2 linked regions of the Homo sapiens genome follow. The protein of the gene in region 2 interacts with the protein of the main gene of each other region in a pairwise test. Each region holds a gene or a part of one and is shown on either strand. Other genes may lie near its edges.

Region 1 (3,732 bases), on a different chromosome or scaffold from region 2:
CGGAGTTTCACCACGTTGGCCAGGTTGGTCTCGAACTCCAGACCTCAGGTAATCTGCCTGCCTCAGCCTCCCATAGTGCTGGGATTACACGCAAGAAAGAGTTTTTTTTTTTTTTTGAGACTTTTTGCTCTTGTTGCCCAGGCTGGAGTGGAATGGTGCGATCTTGGCTCACTGCAGCCTCTGCCTCCCAGGTTCAAGTGATTCTCCTGTCTCAGCCTCCCGAGTACCTGGGGTTACAGGTGCATGCCACCACGCCTGGCTAATTTTTGTATTTTTGGTAGAGACGGCCTTTCATCATATTGGTCAGGCTGGTCTCGGACTCCTGACCTCAGGTGATCTGCCCGCCTCGGCCTCCCAAAGTGCTGGGATTACAGGCATGAGCTATCGTACCCGGCCAAGAAAGAGAATTTTTAAAGAGAAGCTAGTCATATATGAGCTGAAGATACTGAGAACTCATTCTAAAGTGGTAAAGCTTTGAATGATGCCCCTTTCAGAGGTCATGTTCTTTTTTTTTTTTTTTTTTTTTAAAGACCTGAGAAAGTTCAAGTCTTCATGATCAGGAATCTTTCTGTTGCTCAGTTCTAACTACGTTAAGCACAAAAGATAATTTACCTTTTGGTTCGTGTAACTGACTCTTGCCAAGGTTTGGAACTGACCTCAGGAACACAAGTGTTTTCTTAAGGGTGTTTTTTTCTGTCACCTGTGTCACTGTCCATCTGCCTCCTCCTCTCTGCATATGGAATTCTATGAGTGCAGACGGTGCCCGGCTGCCAACAGTTCCAGCTTCTATTGTCCAAGCCCAGACTGAGAGCCCTGAGGGAAAAGGATCCTCACTGTTTTTTGTTTGTTTGTTTGTTTTTGAAACAGTCTCGGTCTGTCACCTAGGCTGGAGTGCAGTGGCATGATCTCGGCTCACTGCAACCTCTGTCTCCTGGGTTCAAACAGTTTTCCTGCCTCAGCCTCCCGAGTAGCTGGGGTTACAGGCGTGCACCACCATACCTGGCTAATTTTTGTATTTTTAGTAGAGACGGGGTTTTGTCATGTTGGCCAGGCTGGTCTCAAACTCCTGACCTCAGATAATCTGCCTGCCTTGGCCTCACAAAGTGCTGGGATTACAGGCGTGAGCCACTGTGCCCGGCCAGGGTCTTCACCATTTTTTTGTTGTTGTTGTTTTGTTTTGTTTGAGATGGAGTCTCGCTCTGTCACCCAGGCTGGAGTGCAGTGGCACAATCTTGGCTCACCCGCAAGCTCTGCCTCCTGGATTCACACCATTCTCCTGCCTCAGCCTCCCGAGTAGCTGGGACTACAGGTGCCCGCCACCGTGCCTGGCTAATTTTTTGTATTTTTTAGTAGAGACAGGGTTTCGCTGTGTTAACTGTGTTAGCCAGGATGGTCTCGATCTCCTGACCTCGTGATCCGCCCGCCTTGGCCTCCCAGAGTGCTGGGATTACAGGCATGCGCCACTGCGCCCGGCCGGTCTTCACCTTTTTAATACCATGCCCAGTCCTAGTAAAGAGCTCGGACAAACCTGGCATGGTCATCCTGGGCCATTCCTCATGACCACAAATGGACATGGTGATTGGTAGCTCTCCCAGAACCATTTAGTTGTGGGGCATGGGATAGTTCCCTGGAGTCAAGTTCCTAGTACCAGATAAAAACAAATGTCTGCTGGCTGGGCGCGGTGGCTCACGCCTGTAATCCCAGCACTTTGGGAGGCTGAGGTGGGAGGATCACCTGAGGTTGGGAGTTTGAGACGAGCCTGACCAACATGGTGAAACCCCATCTCTACTAAAAATACAAAATTAGCCGGGCAGGGTGGCACACGCCTGTAATCCCAGCTACTTGGGAGGCTGAGGCAGGAGAATCACTTGAATCTGAAAGGCAGAGGTTGCGGTGAGCCGAGGTCGTGCCATTGCACTCCAGCCTGGGCGACGAGCGAAACTCCATCTCAAAAAAAAAAAAAAACCAAAACCCAAAAATCAGATGTCTGCTGTAGATGCTGTTATTCCTAGGACGAGTTAATGCTTTGGTAAGCGGAAAGTTCTTGTGTAACTCATGGCACTGTGCATGAGGATGTTAGTCACTTCCTGCAGTAGTGATGGCTCATCATGTCAACTGCATGCTTTGCAGGTGGAAGAGGAAATTGTCACTCTGCGCCAGGTCCTGGCAGCCAAGGAGAGGCACTGTGGAGAGCTCAAGAGGAGGCTGGGCCTCTCCACCCTGGGGGAGCTGAAACAGAACCTGTCCAGGAGCTGGCATGACGTGCAGGTCTCTAGCGCGTAGGTACCTGCCCCAGGCGCACCCCTGGGGGCTGAAGAGAACGGGCACCACACGTGCCCCGGCATGTGGGGGGGCGTCGTCATGCCCAGGGACGAGTTGCAGCCGTGGAGTTGAGTGGCCTGTTTGGAAGGATCCAGAGAGAGGCTCTGAGCCCTTGGCCCAGCGACTGTGCCTTGTTTGTTCAAAAAGCTTGGTGTCTACATGTGTTTTATTTATTTTTAAGTTTTTGTGTACTTTATTATTATTTTTTTTGAGACAGAGTCTCACTCTGTCGCCCAGGCTGGAGTGTAGTGGCGTGATCTTAGCTCGCTGCAACCTCTGCCCCCCGGGTTCAAGCGATTCTCCTGCCTCAGCCTCCCAAGTAGCTGGGATTACAGGCGCCTCCCACCGCGCCCGGCTGATTTTTTTTTTTGTGTGTGTGTGTGTGTGTGTGTGTGTGTTTTTAGTAGAGATGGGGTTTCACCATGTTGGCCAGGCTGGTCTTGAACTCCTGACCTTGTGATCCACCCACCTCAGCCTCCCAAAGTGCTGGCCACCACGCTGGCCTTTTTTTTTTTTTTATTATTATTCTTTTTTGAGATGGTTTCGCTCTGTCACCCAGGCTGGAGTGCAGTGGCGCAATCATGATTCACTGCAACCTCAACCTCCTGGGTTCAAGCAATCCTCCCAACTCAACCCCCCTCGTAGCTGGGATGACAGGCGTGCGCCACCATGCCTGGCTAATTTTTTCACGTTTTATAGAGACAGGGTCTTGCTTTGCTACCTAGGCTGGTCTCAAATTTCTGGGCTCAAGCAATCCTCTTGTTTTGGCCTCCTAAAATGCTTGGGATTACACGTGTGAGCCACCACATCCGGCTTATATACGTGTTCTAAAAAGGCAGACACACTGGCTAGTTGTCCTGGTGGAAAATGATAGGAAGACTGTTTCAGGGTCCAGACTTGAGAGAGCACTGATCAGGTCCTTGGCAAGAGCGGTTTTTCTGTGGTCCTTGTTGTGGGTGTGGCATGGTCACAGCCTCTGACCCAGATATGGCCATATGGGCCGGGCATGGTGGCTCATGCCTACAATCCCAGCACTTTGGGAGGCTGAGGCGGGTGTATCACTTGAGGTTAGGAGTTCAAGACTAGCCTGACCAACATGGAGAAACCCTGTCTCTACTAAAAAATAAAAAAATTTAGCTGGGCGTGGTGGTGCGCACCTGTGATCTCGGCTACTAGGGAGGCTGAGGCAGGAGAATCTCTTTAACCCGGGAGGCGGAGGTTGCAGTGAGCCAAAATTATGCCACTGCCCTCCAGCCTGGGTGACAGAGCAAGACTCTGTCTCAAAAAAAAAAAATATATATATATATATATTTATATATAGGACCATATGGTCCCACAACCCTAGGGACTCTGACCCTCCCCGATGACGACGTGGTCCTACATGACGACGTGGTCCTATAACCCTGGGAC
Region 2 (3,909 bases):
TAAACCATGGATAGACTAGTGTATAGCAAAATGTCTAAAAGGGATATTATGGCATCTGTTGCTCTTATAAGGTCACTTCCTTTCTTGGTCACCTCTTAGGCAGAGGTGGCCGCTCCCATTCTCTTGCCCCATAACTCACTTGTCATAGAGCCTGCTTATCTGATACATGTTGTATCTCTCAACTGGATACTGGTCAAACCTCTTAAGGACTAGGATCTTGTCCCTTTGTATTGGTATCCCCAGTAGTGGTTTCTAGTATTTTTTTGTTGTTTGTTTTTTTGAGATAAGGTCTTGCTCTGTCACCCAGGCTGGAGTGCAGTGGTGCAATCACAGCTCACTGCAGCCTCAACCTCCTGGGCTCAAGTGATCCTGACTCTCCCACTTCATTCTCCCGAAATAGCTGGAACCACAGATATACACCACCGTGCCCGGCTAAGTTTTGTACTTTTTTGTAGAGATGGAGTTTCACCATGTTGCCCAGGCTGGTCTCCAACTTGTGATCTAATGGCTTGAAGATGACCAAAAAATTTAATATTTGCTATTTCCCAATTTTTATCAACTCTGCTGCTAGTATTTCTCAGTAGACAGGGGCACTGCTAGACTCTTGTTCTCCAGCAGTCTGCAGAGGTATTCAGAAATGATTCTGCCCATAGTCCTAGGCAAATGTCTTGTGGTGTTTGTGGGAAGCCAGAAAGATCCTTGCCTGGAGCCACAGGTGGTGCTGACTCCAGTGCTTACTGCCTCAGGCCTTTGTTCAAGTGTCACCTTATCCATGATGTCAGCCTCTTTAAAACTACAGTCCTGCCCATCCTGATCTTTCTTACTCTGCTTTTTCATGTTTCATACCACATATATCTCCATACTGTTTATTATTATGTTTACCCCTGCTAGATCTGAGTCTGTTAAAATTTAGTAGGGATCTCTGTGTGTTCTGTTCACTGATGTATCTCAAGCACTTAGAACAGGGTTCCTCAACCCCTGGGCTGCAGACTAGTACTGGTCCGTGGCCTGTTAGGAACTGGGCCACACAGCAGAAGGTGAGCAGGCAGGCGAGCATTACTGCCTGAGCTCTGCATCCTGTCAGATCAGCAGCATTCGATTCTCATAGGAGCTAACCCTATTGTGAACTGTGCACGCAGGGGATCTACGCTGTGCGCTCCTTATGAGAATCTAATGCATCACCCCCCGCCCCTGGTCTGTGGAAACATTGTCTTCCATGAAGCTGGTCCCTGGTGCCAGAAAGGTTGGGGACCACTGACCTAGAACAATGCCTTACAGAAGACCTAGACTCAAAGAGCGGTACCTAGGTAGGTAGGAAGTATAGGAAGTCGATCGGTTTTTGGAAACTGTGACTTGAAGCAAAATGATGCACTGTATAACAAAGCCAATTTTACCACAGTTGATACTGTTAAAAGAAAAACTTCGGCTGAATTCAATTTAAAAGAGCTTAATTGAGCAAAGAATGATTCACAAATTGTGCAGCCTGCTGAGCCAAAGCAGGCTCAGAGACTCCAGTGCAGTCACGTGGTGGAAGATAATTTATGGACAGAAAAAAGAAAGTGATGGACAGAAAAAGGAAAAGTGACGTACAGAAAATGGAAGTGAGGAACAGAAACAGCTGGATTGGTTATAGCTCAGCATTTGCCCTTTTTGAACAGGGTTCGAACAGTTGGCCACATTTGATTGGCCAAAAGTCGAGGATTGGCATGAGTGCAGGCTATAGTCTGTTTACACGTCCACTTGTTGTAGTCCACGATGTACAGAGAAACCTTTAGGCCAAATTTAAAATATGTAAGGAGGCAGCTTTAGGCTAAACTTGATTTAACAATATAAACAAGAGTTAACTTCCTATGACATATACTTCAAGTCACAGTTTGAGAACCCACCGAGGACATTGAGGACTTACAGTACTCCCTTAAGGCTTCCCCACCTCTTGTCATTGGCCATCCTGTGTCACTAAACAGAAAGGAGTTGCTAAGTCAAGAATGAAGATCTTACTGAGTTTTCTAGAGCAAAGCTGCTCATCCCTGCTTGCATGTCTTTAGTATTGAGGGTAAAGGCCTTAGTGCCCTGGAAGGTGAACTTTAGAGGTTGTTAAAGGGTCATGGAAAAAAGAGGAGGTGGGGTCTTGGATTGTGGTTGCAGAGCGCTATAAACTGACCGTAACAGATGGTATTCTTTTAAACAGGTATAAAAGTTTGGTCACGGGGACCCGAGCAAGAGGGGTCATTGCTGTCCTCTGGGTCCTTGCCTTTGGCATCGGATTGACTCCATTCCTGGGGTGGAACAGTAAAGACAGTGCCACCAACAACTGCACAGAACCCTGGGATGGAACCACGAATGAAAGCTGCTGCCTTGTGAAGTGTCTCTTTGAGAATGTGGTCCCCATGAGCTACATGGTATATTTCAATTTCTTTGGGTGTGTTCTGCCCCCACTGCTTATAATGCTGGTGATCTACATTAAGATCTTCCTGGTGGCCTGCAGGCAGCTTCAGCGCACTGAGCTGATGGACCACTCGAGGACCACCCTCCAGCGGGAGATCCATGCAGCCAAGTCACTGGCCATGATTGTGGGGATTTTTGCCCTGTGCTGGTTACCTGTGCATGCTGTTAACTGTGTCACTCTTTTCCAGCCAGCTCAGGGTAAAAATAAGCCCAAGTGGGCAATGAATATGGCCATTCTTCTGTCACATGCCAATTCAGTTGTCAATCCCATTGTCTATGCTTACCGGAACCGAGACTTCCGCTACACTTTTCACAAAATTATCTCCAGGTATCTTCTCTGCCAAGCAGATGTCAAGAGTGGGAATGGTCAGGCTGGGGTACAGCCTGCTCTCGGTGTGGGCCTATGATCTAGGCTCTCGCCTCTTCCAGGAGAAGATACAAATCCACAAGAAACAAAGAGGACACGGCTGGTTTTCATTGTGAAAGATAGCTACACCTCACAAGGAAATGGACTGCCTCTCTTGAGCACTTCCCTGGAGCTACCACGTATCTAGCTAATATGTATGTGTCAGTAGTAGGCTCCAAGGATTGACAAATATATTTATGATCTATTCAGCTGCTTTTACTGTGTGGATTATGCCAACAGCTTGAATGGATTCTAACAGACTCTTTTGTTTTTAAAAGTCTGCCTTGTTTATGGTGGAAAATTACTGAAACTATTTTACTGTGAAACAGTGTGAACTATTATAATGCAAATACTTTTTAACTTAGAGGCAATGGAAAAATAAAAGTTGACTGTACTAAAAATGTATACTTGTTGCCAGGAAGGTGACCTCAAAAATTAAAAGTATAATTATTCGGCCGGGCATGGTGGCTCACACCTGTAATTCCAGCACTTTGGGAGGCCAAGGCAGGCGGATCACGAGGTCAGGAGTTCAAAACCAGCCTGTCCAATATAGTGAAACCCCGTCCCTACTAAAAAATACAAAAATTAGCTGGGTATGTGGCATGTGCCAGCTACTCAGGAGACTGAGGCAGGAGAATCATGTGAACTTGGGAGGCGGAGGCTGCAGTGAGCCCAGATGGCATCACTGTACTCCAGCCTGGGTGACAGAGTGAGACTCTGTCTCAGAAAAAAAAAAAAAAAAAAAAAAAAAAAAAAAATATATATATATATATATATATATATATATATATATATATATAAATAAAGTATTCAATCAAGAAACTGCTGTATTAATTTAGGGAAATGATTGATTGATAGTCTCATAAGTCAAATTTTCATCACATAATTTTAAGCTCCATTCTTTTCCATATACAGAAAACTACCCGTGGGGAAGAAACTGGTGAAATGGGATCCCTCCTCTACCAAATTCTGCCTTCTAGAGCTAGATAGATAGATAGGGAATTTTGCTTCTCTCCAAATTTCAAGTTTGGTTAAGTTCTTGGAACTCAAAGTGTGAA

The links. Proteins that work in one complex are often made in the same cells at the same time.
Region 1: the proteins of ADORA2B (region 2) and TPD52L2 interact in a two-hybrid assay, tested with the Homo sapiens proteins (one large-scale study listed by BioGRID and IntAct).

What each region holds. Positions count from the first base shown.
Region 1 is NC_000020.11:63,871,538-63,875,269, forward strand, and holds part of TPD52L2 (tumor protein D54), read left to right. Parts: intron 1-2,130; coding exon 2,131-2,279; intron 2,280-3,732.
Region 2 is NC_000017.11:15,972,491-15,976,399, forward strand, and holds the end of ADORA2B (adenosine receptor A2b), read left to right. Parts: intron 1-2,188; coding exon 2,189-2,852; 3' UTR 2,853-3,256; downstream 3,257-3,909. UniProt on the Homo sapiens protein: Receptor for adenosine. The activity of this receptor is mediated by G proteins which activate adenylyl cyclase.